Linked DNA regions of Homo sapiens: all the other regions are reported to be linked to region 3. Evidence: microRNA targets listed by miRTarBase, many of them from high-throughput screens and not tested one by one. Region 3 holds a microRNA gene; each other region holds the end of a gene's coding sequence.

Region 1 (3,178 bases), not on the chromosome of region 3:
AAAGAGTTTTGAAATTCTACTTCCCAAGGATATTTAACTCTCATACTTGATAGTTTGGTTGGACATCTCCTTACATTTTCAGAAACGTAAAGTATAGAAAAATATTTTCCGTCATAAAATGAGACAACATTTATGTGAAAAAGTGAGGTAATATTTTCCTAAATGTATCCATCCAAACTCTGAATCTGAAAGATCAGTGCCTTCTGCTTCTCTTCAAGATGTGGCAAGTCTTAATTCCAAATAGGTGAATTTTATATTTTTATTTCTTTTTGGTTTTCAAACAGGGATCTATTTGTGATGACTATATGGCAACTCTTTGCTGTCCTCATTGTACTCTTTGCCAAATCAAGAGAGATATCAACAGAAGGAGAGCCATGCGTACTTTCTAAAAACTGATGGTGAGTCAATGCAAACATGCCTCTCAGAACATGTGGGTTTTTAGAAATATCACTAAAGACTTTGTCAATTATTTGTTGTTTTGAATAATTCAGCAATAACTATTTCTTAAGTCTCCTGAAGTGCTATCATAATATCAAGATTGGCTTTAATTTTCTTCTTATGAAGAAGATAGCTCTATACTTTGAAACCATATTTTAGTAAATAAAGGAATGGTGAATTTTCTAAACTTCTCAGAATTCTGGTGATCTATTAAGGAAGCACTTACCACTTGTAAAATACCAGAGTATGGTGAGATACAAAAGAATTAGAAAACATGTTCCCTGCTAAGACAAACAAGTTGACAAAAGGAATTCGTAAATAATTATAAAATAGAAGAGTAAAGAAAATAACATTCTGTATGATATTTGGATTGATTGTGGCATAAAGCATCTATCATAGCAAGGTGAGGTTAAATAGAAAACTCCTGTTGGAGAAGCTGAACTTTGAAAGAGGTGAACATAGAATTTAGAATGTTTGGAAATGTTATATAGAATTAACCATCTGAAATTCAATCAAGTCATTTTCAACTAATTTTTCTCAGGACTATCTATTGAGGATGTAGTTAAGTAGAAATCAACATGACTTACTCCATCCCCTGTAGAATATATATTAAGTATGGGAAGAACACAATTTTTCTACTCTTTGTAATATCCAGTTTCCTTCCTGAAGTGATAAGGACTCTGTATGGGTTAATAAAAATAACTCTTGGGAGATACGTAAAAAAATGTTCATTTACTTAGCAAGTAATGTATTAAGGATCTAGGATCAAGTATATATTATCTTAGCAACTAATGTATCAATGTATCAATATCTAAGACTAGGTAAGATACTGTTAGGTATTGTAGTAGGGTTGGGGAGCAAGATAAATAAGCTAGTCCCTCTGTCATTATAGAATTTATACGAAAAAGGGGGATTAGACAAACCCCTAACTAAAATGCAGAATTCAATTAATGCCTATAGACAAAGCGGTATTTTATGTTCAGAGGAGGAAAAGATCACATCTTGTAAGATGTATAGGTGAAAGTTTCTTGAAAGCAGTGATTTTTAATTCTAAAGGGGAAGTGCGTATTAGTTCTCAACAAGAAACAGATGGCACTCAAACTGTGATAGTTCAAAGATTTAATGAAGACTAATTATAAAGGTGTGGGTGGGGCATTGTAGGGAGATGACAAGGGATGGCATAATAACCTGCCTGGCAACAGCCCCAGGGAGGAGAAGAGGGAGCAGTGACCTGAATCCTTAAGGAGAGAGCTGTGTGAAGAGGCCTGCCCTGAAAGAAACAGTATCCTCTCAAGAGAGGGTTGTGAGCAGCCCGAGGCAACCCATAGAACTGAAAAAGTACCCTGACCTCACTTTCGGATGTCCTTCTGGTTTTCCCATTGGCTGAACCCACCAGAAAGGCAGAGGGCAGCAAAGTGTCACGGTAGTCCGCAGGTCGCTTCCCAGGGCACACAGCAGGATGGTCAAGGGAGTAAGTAAATCAGATAGGGGCAAACAGAGGATCACTGACTCAAGATGTGGTTTTAATTAATAGAAATGGAGGCTGAGTGCAGTGGCTCACACCTGTGATCCCAGCACTTTGGGAGGCCAAGGCAAGAGGACTGCTTGAACCCAGGAGTTCAAGACCAGCCTGGGGAACATGTTGAAACCCTGTCTCTTGAAAAAATACAAAAATTAGCTAGGTGTGGTGGTGCACGCCTGTAGTCCCAGATACTTGGGAGGCTGAGGTGGGAGGATCACTTGAGCCTGGGAGGTAGAAGCTGCAGTGAGCTATGATCACACCACTGCACTCCAGCCCTGTCTCAAAAAAAAAAAAAAAAAAAAAAAGGAAAAGAAAAAGAAAAGAAATGAAATGTTGCTTCTAATCAGCAATATTAATGAAACTAGAGAGGCAAAAACAGAGAAAATATCTTTATGAGCTTAGGTCCAACTTGGCTAGAACATATGGCATAAGTAGAAAAATAACGAAAAATAAAAGATTTTAAAGGCCTTAGCATGCGATGTCTGAATACTAAGCTAATGACTTGGTAGGAATTGGGAAATTATTGCAGGCTTGAAGTAAATGAATAGAACTACTCTTTAGAAATATGAATCTAAGGCTGGGCATGGTGGCTCATGCCTATAATCCCAACACTTTGGGAGACCGAGGTGGGAGGATCACTTGAGCTCAGGAGTTCAGCACCAGCGACCAGCCTGGGCAACATAGCAAGACCTCATCTCTACTAAAAAGTAAAAATAAAAATAAATAAAATTTTAAAATAATAAATATTAATCTAATAATAGTATATAGTACAGATTGTACAGGATGAGGCCAGAAGCAAAGATGGGGAGTTAGATCATTCCAACACTGTTTACTTAAATAAATACATGAAACAATTTGGATCAAATATCTACCCACACATTCATAGTAATGAGTCCTGATAGCTCAAGTGTTTTCTTTAACCTCAGGGAAAATATCTCACTGAATCTTTAGGTGGGTTTGAAGTAAAATACCTTGGCGGTCCTGACTCCTCCTCATCAACTTGGACCCTACATCACTCACTGGCAATAAAACTTTAGACAAACAGATATCGAAATGGGGAGCTAAACAAGAGAGAAAGAGCAAGGAATAACAACATGATTTACGTTAAAATAGATTGAGATGAAGGACATAGGAATCCACTGGAAAAGCTCCCCATAGTCCAAACTGGGGCACTTTGAGGAACAAAATAAGGTCGTGTTAGATTATAACCCAAAGTAT
Region 2 (3,000 bases), not on the chromosome of region 3:
TGAGTTGGTCACCTGTCACCAGCTAGAAAAACCCAAGCCAGAGTTGGTTCTGCTGGACTGGTAAGATGTCCCACCCCAAACTGACCAACTGAATCAGCATTTCTAGTCTTCTGTGCAATTGCCTGCAGTCGTATAGACCCGGTCATGATGGCAGAGAATAAAATCTTCTCTCACACCGGTCTCCAGTTACAGAGTTCTGATCACTGCAACCGGGAAAGCTGAGAACTCTTCATCATCTAGCACATTTGCGAAATTCATTGGCTTTAACAAACTGTTCCCCAAACACCTGGCCTGTGCGGTCTCCTCTCACCAGCATGTGCTCTGTCATATTCAGAAAGTGCTTATAGGCTCTCGCTTGCCTTGAAAAATATCCATCAGCTATCAGAAAAGCTAAAACCCATCGTGGCTCTGGTGAAACGTTCACTTCAGGGAAACACACAAGCCAATTTGGTCCGACTTAATAAGTTTAACAAAATCCAGGTGAAGGAATCTATCTGGAAAAACAGAAGACTCTTATGAGCAGCTCCAAGAAATAATTCTCTCGGGAAAGGGGAAAAAAGATGTGAATTCCTCCATACCAGGGTAGAAAGCAAGATGAAATTGGGTCTCACAAATGGGGAACATTCACGTAACCCCGACCTAAAACGGTGGTTTCCAAATATCTTAGGATTGTGAGACCTTCCTGGATTTTCTTCTCATGCTTTGTCTTAGAGGTAAAATCATGTTTGAAACTCACAAACTGTCTTATGATCTCTCACCCCCCACCCCCAACAAAGACCACAGACAAGAACATCATGGAACCAACTTTAAAAACTCGAGTCTGTCTCATTCTGAATGTGAGACATGAGGGACACCATTCCTAAAGTTTAAAAGAAATTGTTCTGCATTCTGGCAGGATCTGCTCTGTTTCATGCGCAGAGCGTACGGCCATGTCTGCAACTCGGGAGAGCTCCATTTAACGTGTGCGAGGACTCAGTAACATATAGCCATGCTTTTTACAGAGCCCTTGTGTTCCCAGATTGGCTTCAGGTTTGAAACCCTAACCTTCAGTTATGTGTCCTGTTAATAATAGGTCTCACCTCCCCAAGCGTACAAGAGACGAGAGAGCTAGCAAGGGAATGGTTTCCAGAGTGGGAGAATCCGAGAGAGAGGGCAAGACTGCAGCCTGGACCAACCAATCCATGGAGAATACTGCTCACCCACCTGCAGGCTCTGCCATGTTCCTCCTGACACCCCCAGGGATCTCCTGCCCACCCCCCAATATACCACCCAAGGGACACGTGGGACCCCACAAAGGCACACAGGCACTGGTGTTGAGAGCCGGCTGCATGAGGTGAAGACACAGATCCGCTCCTTAAAGGGAAGGTTTAGAAGTGCATGGCTAAAATCCAACCCAATTATACAATGATTCTTGGCTGAGAATAAGCTAATGGCTGGAGCTCTATAGAATCTCAAGATTTTTCTATGAAAGTCCTACCACCAAACAGCTGTGAAAATAAACCAACGTTCCTTGATGGGCTTCCTCCAAGTGCGGGACCACCCCAAACCCTGCTGTCTTGGGCCACTGTTTATCACAAACACTGCGGTCTACATCCAGAGGACGGATCTCAAGGGGAACTTTCTGTTGACGCTCCTTCCACAACATGGAGATGGGAGACAGGCACACTCAGAGATGATCAGAGATGACAGCAAATGCCATCTTCAGCTTTCCAGGCCAGTGATTTAAGTGCAGGAACAGGGGTGGAATGTAGTGGATATTCACTTGGAAGGTGTGCAAAGTCTCTTATTCACAGAACTCCCATCTCCTAAACAGAAATGACAAACCCCAAGCAAAATTCAACACATCTTTTTTATGTATAAATGGGTCAGTGGTACAGAGGGAGTTACTTTTTATAAATATCTGCAGCAAATCCCCTAAAAAAGATGTGAATAAAAACTCTCTCTCAGCACAAAGGGCCTATTCCTTCCCCAAAAGTGTTAAATTCCCGAGAGCCTGTGCTTAGCCAAACACTTGTGGGGCCTCCTGGGAAGAACAGGAGGACTTTGGGACCGAGAGGAGAGCCTTCCCATCTCCCCGGAGAGCGGAGGTGACTTGAAGGTCATCTGTTGCCCAGGACTTGGGAGTGATTAAACTGTTTCTTCCCAAGACTTGAGGTCTTCTTTGTCAAGCTGCTGATTAAGCGGTCTCTCTGTTTCCTGGCAGTGGCCCAGAGGGAGGGAGGAGAGGAACCTACAATCGCGTGAGGAAGTAAAAAACTCTGGGTATTTTGATAAAAAAAAACACTTGGTAATCACTGTAACCCTGTAAAGCCGATGTATCGAATTCACCAGAGGGAAAATTGTAGATTAGCATTCTGGAAGCTATAAACACAAGCATTTCTTTAGGAAGATCATTACTTAGCACCAATGTCTCTCTCTCTCTCATAATTTTTCCTTTTCCTCCAAGCCCTTGGCTGTGATCAGTGCTGTCGGACCACAGCTCAGCAGTACTTTTAATCAGTAACACAGCTGGGCTCGAAGGGGAGTGCCGTCACATGCCACAGAACAAACAGCGCGCTCACACCAAACGGCAAGGCTCCTGGGGGCATCCTGGCTGGGGAATCGCAAGCGGACCCCCGGCCTCTTCCTGGGGCTGCTCTTTGGCAATCCAGGCTCAGGGGCTTTACTCGAAGCGACGCAGGTGGTTGTACAGCGACTGGACGTAGGTGAAGACACACATGGGGTCCGGCTTGCGGCCCATCACCATCATGTCCTCCACTTCGATGAGGCGCTCACAGTTGGCCAGATTCCTGAAACACACAAGCCCCGTCAGAACGGTGGTCCCAGCCATCAGCCAGCCCCACAGCCGCGACAGGGCCGGTGTCTCGGTCCCGGGAACAGAGCTCAGCCGGCAGCCAGAGGTTCCCAAGGACCCACCAGCGGGGAATTCAGATAACCCTGGCAGAACCCTTGGAGTCACTGACTCCAATACAATGTTTCCCAAACTCCCAGATTTATGAG
Region 3 (3,191 bases):
TCCAGGAAGGGACTCCATCATCCTCATCATCCTCTGCAATAGCCTGAGCCCCATCATCATTAGGAGAGCAGAGAAGAAGACCTGAGCCACATCCGAGGAAACTGCTTGCTGCAGGCAAATTTCAAAAACATCCCGACCACTGTTTACAGCTCGTCTGCTGCTTTGCCACCAAAGCTTCAGAGGTTCTACCCCTACTGAGCTTCTGCTAGAGAAACATTCCTCTAGCCTTAGAGGGGATGATTTCAGACAGACACCAAGCTGCACTTTAGTTTTATAATTGTAGGAATGCTCACAGAACATCATTGTTGTTTAATCAAAGAATCTAATTCCATTCCACTCTGATCGCTGTGTATTACTACCGCAGTGTTTTCCTTGGCCTGCAATGAGGGAACGAAACTACATTTGATAGCTACATTTGACAGGCCGCCTCTGACCCTCCGCCCCAGGCAGGACCCTCCCGGTGGAAGGGAGGAGTGGGGCATGCTCCATGCAGTGGCGGGGGGTGGGTGGCTGTCCCTTTCTCCAGGCTGTCCCTGCCTGCCTGGAGCCCTGTGGTAAGGGGCCCCCAGTGCAGCCACTTCTCTATGGAGAAGGAAGCCCCAGCCTTTCCCTGGCAACCAAGGCTTTCCCTGGACCCCTCAAGTCGGGTGGGGAGAAGCCCTCTGAGCCACCTGTCTGTCCCCCAGGCCGCCGATGCTGTGGGGGAGATCCTGCTCTCCCTCAGCTACCTCCCCACAGCCGAGCGCCTCACCGTGGTCGTGGTTAAGGCCAAGAACCTCATCTGGACCAACGACAAGACCACAGCGGGTAAGGCCCAGCCGGCAGCCCGGCTCCTCCACGTAGCTCAGTGGAAGCTGTGGCCCAGCTGCTGTGCTGTGGGCACCCGGAGGCATCGGCAGGTGTGGGACACAGTGCCAAGGTCCCCCTCAGCTTTGCTGAGCCCAGAAGTCATGCAGATGGATAGGGGGTGGCATGGGGACAATTAATCCAGCCGGGGAAACATGAGATCCCTGGAGGGTGGCAGGGGCCCCTGTGAGGGCAGAGTGAAGGGGGTCAGAGTGATGCGGGGGTCTCAGGGCAGGAGGCCGCACTCAGGGCTGGGGGCACTGGGCAGGGAACCAAGGTGGGCATCTGTTCCCTGGAACTGGAATTCATGGTGGAGACTCCATTCCCAGAGACAGGGCAGTATCCCAGACTCCAAAAAGGGACCAGGGCCACGGGGTTGGGGTGGGTGCCAGGCAGGACCCGATGCCTTAGGTCTGCAGGAGTCCCCAGTCCCTCTCAAAGCAGTGACCGTGGAGGCAGCTGTATTCTAGAGAACTGAAGACCAGGGGCTGGGGGAGCCTGATCTATTGGGAGTTGCAAGCCTTGGGGCGGGGGTAGGTGGGGGGGGCAGCTCCAGGCAGGTGCGGCAAGGACACCCCGTGGGCAATAGGTGATGGGCAGACGGCAAGTTGTTATTTCAGAGCCGCACACGGTTGAGTCAGGCTCTGCTGTGCGGGTGCCCGGTGACTCAGGGCTGACGTCTGCACTCGGGCCATTTATAGAAGGAACACGGTGGGGCTGCTGAGTTCCCCAGAGCATCCTAGGAGGGGAGCGCGTGGGCTGTGAGGCAGCTGCCTGAGCACAAAGCCCAGCCCTCACCTGACGTGCTGTGTGAGCCTCAGTTTTCTCATCTGTGAAATGGGAAAAATAATAAAGGACCAATGGCAGGGCTGCAGGAGGTCACAGCAACAGTTAAGCATTGGGGAGTTTGGAGTCGGTGGGTGGAGCCAAACTGGGCAGGGCTGTGGTGAGTGAGTGTGACACTGGCCCTCACCTGTCCGCCTGCCCACAGACCCCTTCGTCAAGGTGTACCTGCTGCAGGATGGGAGGAAGATGAGCAAAAAGAAGACAGCCGTGAAGAGGGATGACCCCAACCCGGTGTTCAACGAAGCCATGATCTTCTCGGTGCCAGCCATTGTGCTCCAGGTGAGGGGGGCTGGGGGATGGGAAGGGGCCAGGTCACCCCAGGGCTCTGGGGCTGCCGCATCTCTCCACCTTCTCTTCTCAGGGCCCCTGCAGGGGTAGTGGTTTGCCTCCAGCCATCACTTTCTAGCAGTTATTGAGTGCCACTGGGGCCAGCCCTAGGGTGGGTGCTGGGGACACAGGCATGGCTTTCTCGGTGCTCACAAGGGACAGGCAGGAGAGTCCCTAATCCACTAAGAGTGTCCTCAGGTGAGGGGGGATTCCTGCAGGAGGGGATACCCAGCTCTGAGGGAGGACCATTCCTGGTGGAGGGAACTGCAGAGGGTTGGAGAGGAGCTGGGGTGAGCCAGGCACCCAGAGTTCCTGCTCTGAATCTCCCAAGCTCCATTTCAGGGTTCTGCTGAACTCCCCAGGTTCGCGTGGTCTTCAGAAGGTGACATGCTCCAGGGAGACCTCTCCCAGCAGGGACATCACAGACCACGGGTGGGGCTTGAAGATAGGGCTTGGGCCCTGCTTGCATGCCTCGGAGGATGGGGCTCGCACCACCTTCCCTCACTATCTCTAGCCCTCCTCGGCACTCCTGACAATGAGAAAGTCCTTTGTGCCTTGAGCCAAAACCTGCCTCCATAGCCCCAGGGCTGTACAGAACCCGCCTAATCTCCCCCAACCCGGGGACCCCGCCAGCATGTAAAGGCCCAGAATCTGCCTCACTCTGAGTGTTCCTAACCCGGGCACACCCCAGCATCTCTGGCCCATCCTGGGTATCGTAGCCTTCACCTGCCACCCTCGTGGAGCAGGCTGCCCATGTGTCCTCTGCCTCTCCCTGGGTGTCATAGTGCCACTTCTCCACAGCCTCTAAAAGCAAGAGACTTCTTGGGACCATGGGGGAAGTGGAGGAGGAGAGAGATCGGGCTGGGTTTGAGTTTCAGCTCCCGCTCTCATCTCAAGCAGTCTCTCCCGTCCTCGGTTGTGAGTGCAACGTGGTGATATTAGTAATAGCAACGCAACCTCTAGCATGTTCTGACTGTGCGCAGGTGCCGTTCTACACAGTTCACTCTTTTTGTTCCTGAAACAGCCCTATGAGATAGAAACCAATTTTTTTTTTTTTGAGACAGAGTCTCACTCTGTTGCCCAAGCTGGAGTGCAATGGTGTGAACTCAGCTCACTGCAACCTCCGCCTCCTGGGTTCAAATGATTCTTCTGCCTCAGCTTCCTGAGTAGCT
Region 4 (3,000 bases), not on the chromosome of region 3:
CAGCTGGCCTGCTCTGATACCTTCCTGAACAGCACGTTGATATACTTTATGACGGGTGTGCTGGGCGTTTTTCCCCTCCTTGGGATCATTTTCTCTTATTCACGAATTGCTTCATCCATAAGGAAGATGTCCTCATCTGGGGGAAAACAAAAAGCACTTTCCACCTGTGGGTCTCACCTCTCCGTCGTTTCTTTATTTTATGGGACAGGCATTGGGGTCCACTTCACTTCTGCGGTGACTCACTCTTCCCAGAAAATCTCCGTGGCCTCGGTGATGTACACTGTGGTCACCCCCATGTTGAACCCCTTCATCTACAGCCTGAGGAACAAGGATGTGAAGGGAGCCCTGGGGAGTCTCCTCAGCAGGGCAGCCTCTTGTTTGTGATGGATCCCTTGGCCCCAGGACTAAGAAGTTTTGTGAGCACCAATGGCAAAAATGTTTTATTTTGAAATTCTTACTCTTTAAAATTAAAAACATTTTTTTATACTTTGAGAGTACAAATGCAGATTTCTTAACATGCATTTGCATAAGGGTGAAGTCTGAGCTTTTGGCGTACCAATTACCTGAATAGTGAACATAAGGCACTTTTTTTTCTTTTTTGAGACGGAGTCTCACTCTGTCTCCCAGGCTGGAGTGCAGTGGAGTGATCTCGGCTCACTGCAACCTCCGCCTCCCGGGTTCAAGTGATTCTTCTGTCTCAGCCTCCTGAGTAGCTGAGATTACAGGTGTGTGCCACCCATGCCTTTTAGTAGAGACGGGGTTTCACCATCTTGGCCAGGCTGGTCTCGAACTCCTGACCTTGTGATCCACCTGCCTTGGCCTCTCAAAGTGCTGGGATTACAGGTGTGAGCCACCACGCCCGGCCAAGGCAGTTTTTAAACTCTCACTCCCCTCTCACCTTTTGCAGTCTCCAGTGTCCATTATTCTGTTATAATGCCCATGCGTATACATTGTTTAGCTCCCAATTATAAGTGAGATCATGCAGCATTTGACTTTGTTTCTTTACTACCTTACTTAAGAGAATGGCTTCCAGTCCCATCGATGTTGCTGCAAAAGACATGATTTCATCCTTTTTTATGGCTGAGTAGTACTCCATTGTATATATCCTCGATATCTATATAGATATAGACATATGTAGATACATACCATGTTTTCTTTTTTTAAAAAAATTTATTTTTATGTCAGTAGTTTTTGGGGTACATGTGGTTTTTCATTACACGGATGAGTTCTTTAGTGGTGACTTCTGAGTTTTTAGTGTACCCGTCACCCAAGTGGTAGTAGTCTCTTATTCCTCACCCCCCTCCCAACCTTTCTCCCTTCAAGTCACCAAAGTTCATTATATTGTTCATATCCCTTTGTGTCCTCATAGCTTAGCTCCCACTTATAACTGAGAACATACGATATGTTCATATGGATCTTATGTATGTTGGTTGAACATACAAACAAGTCCAGGTTTTTCATTCCTGAGTTACTTCACCTAGAGTAATGACCTCCAGTTCCATCCAAGTTGCTACAAAAGACATTATTTGGTTCCTTTTTATGGATAAGTAGTATTCCATGCTGTACATATACCACAATCTTTATCACTCATTGGTTGATGGGCACTTAGGTTGGTTCCATGCCTTTGTAATTGCTAATTATGTTGCTATAAACATGCAGGTGTATGTGTCTTTTTCACATAATGACTTTGTTTCCTTTGGGTAGATACCCAGTAGTGGAACTGCTGGACTGAAAGGTAGTTCTACTTTTAGTTCTTTTTTTTGTTTTTTTTTTAAGACAGAGTCTCACTCTGTTGCCCAGGCTGGAGTGCAGTGGCGCGATCTCATCTCACTGCAACCTCCACCTCCCAGGTTCAAGCGATTCTCCTGCCTCAACCTCCTGAGTAGCTGGGACTACAGGCACCTGCCACCCCACCCAGCTAATTCTTCTATTTTTAGTAGAGACAGGGTTTCACCATGTTGGCCAGGCTGGTCTTGAACTCCTGACCTCAGGTGATACGCCCACCTCGGCCTCCCAAAGTGCTGGGATTACAGGTGTGAGCCACTGTGCCTGGCCTTCTAGTTCTTTAAGATACCACTTTAAAAAAAGTCCAGTCCTCCATTGATGGACACGTAGGTTGATTCCATATCTTTGCTAATGTGAATAGTGCCGTGATAAACATGGGGGTGTAAGTTAACAATTAATCTCCAAGTAATTTCCTTGATGGCACTTCTGTCCTATGTGCTATTCAAAAATTGTGTCCTTGATCATCGTTCTTAATTCTCCATTAGTGAGTTCTGAACTTGGGTTTGAAGCATTTGCTATAGCTTTGTTATCTCAAGTGGTGGCACAGAGTTCTTAAGCTATTGATTGTTCACTGACTTTATTTCTATGTGTTTGCATGTGGGTTTTTGTTGTTTGTGTGTTCGATCATGAACAGATCAACAGTGTTTATTTGTTTTCCTACTGGATGAAGTATGATTAAAATACGTATTTAAATATAGCTGGTTATATCTCTCTGGTGTCTCTTCTTCTTCTAAGAATATCAGTCCTATTAGATCAGGGCCTGACCCTTATGATTTCAGTAAACTTTAATTACCTCCCTGAGGACCCTGTATCTAAAGACAGTCATCATATTGGGGGTGAGGACTTCACTATATTAATTTTGGGGGGTGCAATTTAGTCCATAAGAGATGTTTATGCAGATCTGAGAAAGTTTCTGCCAACTCTATGGGGAGCTCTAAAGCTAGGGCTGCTCTTTGGAGAATTCTCACATTGTGTAGAAATAACCAGGCCCTATTACCCCAGGAAGCGTGGGGCCTTGAGGGTGATAGGGACAGAGGGTGGAGAAATTCTAGGCAGAAAAGGGCAGTTCCCAGGCAAAACCCCACCCTCAAGCCAAAAAGCCTGAAACTGCAGCCCAAAGTGAGAACTTATATCCCTGTTTTCTCGCTTGGATATCACCTTTTCCTAAACCACCCCTGACCCTGCCCAACCCCATGCTATGCCTATAAAAACCCC

The links. The annotated mature microRNA hsa-miR-6860 reads ACUGGGCAGGGCUGUGGUGAGU and lies in region 3 at 1,777-1,798, shown strand. An mRNA with a match to its seed (bases 2 to 7 or 8) in the 3' UTR can be bound and repressed. Matches are read on the target gene's strand: a 7mer-m8 pairs with bases 2 to 8, a 7mer-A1 pairs with bases 2 to 7 and ends in A, and an 8mer does both.
Region 1: miRTarBase lists PLAC8 as a target of hsa-miR-6860. The part of its 3' UTR that is shown has no 7-base or 8-base seed match.
Region 2: the mRNA of SMTNL2 is a reported target of hsa-miR-6860. The part of its 3' UTR that is shown has no 7-base or 8-base seed match.
Region 4: miRTarBase lists OR7D2 as a target of hsa-miR-6860. Seed matches in the 3' UTR shown: 7mer-m8 at 1,794-1,800.

What each region holds. Positions count from the first base shown.
Region 1 is chr4:83,091,898-83,095,075 of GRCh38, reverse strand. PLAC8 (placenta associated 8) reads left to right here. Exons shown (of 5, transcript NM_016619.3): 4 at 285-398. The coding sequence ends at 389. Among named protein-coding and RNA genes, the nearest start is that of PLAC8, 21 kb to the left of the region's middle.
Region 2 is chr17:4,607,150-4,610,149 of GRCh38, reverse strand. It overlaps SMTNL2 (smoothelin like 2), which reads right to left. Exons shown (of 8, transcript NM_001114974.2): 8 at 1,831-2,789. The coding sequence ends at 2,663. Among named protein-coding and RNA genes, the nearest start is that of LINC01996, 1.8 kb to the left of the region's middle.
Region 3 is chr11:67,043,907-67,047,097 of GRCh38, forward strand. It overlaps MIR6860 (microRNA 6860), which reads left to right and starts at 1,737; the gene lies at 1,737-1,802. SYT12 (synaptotagmin 12) reads left to right here. Exons shown (of 8, transcript NM_177963.4): 6 at 687-807; 7 at 1,838-1,971. RefSeq lists enhancers at 2,190-2,319, 2,420-2,499.
Region 4 is chr19:9,186,337-9,189,336 of GRCh38, forward strand. OR7D2 (olfactory receptor family 7 subfamily D member 2) reads left to right here. Exons shown (of 3, transcript NM_175883.4): 3 at 1-2,482. The coding sequence ends at 384. Among named protein-coding and RNA genes, the nearest start is that of OR7D2, 8.9 kb to the left of the region's middle.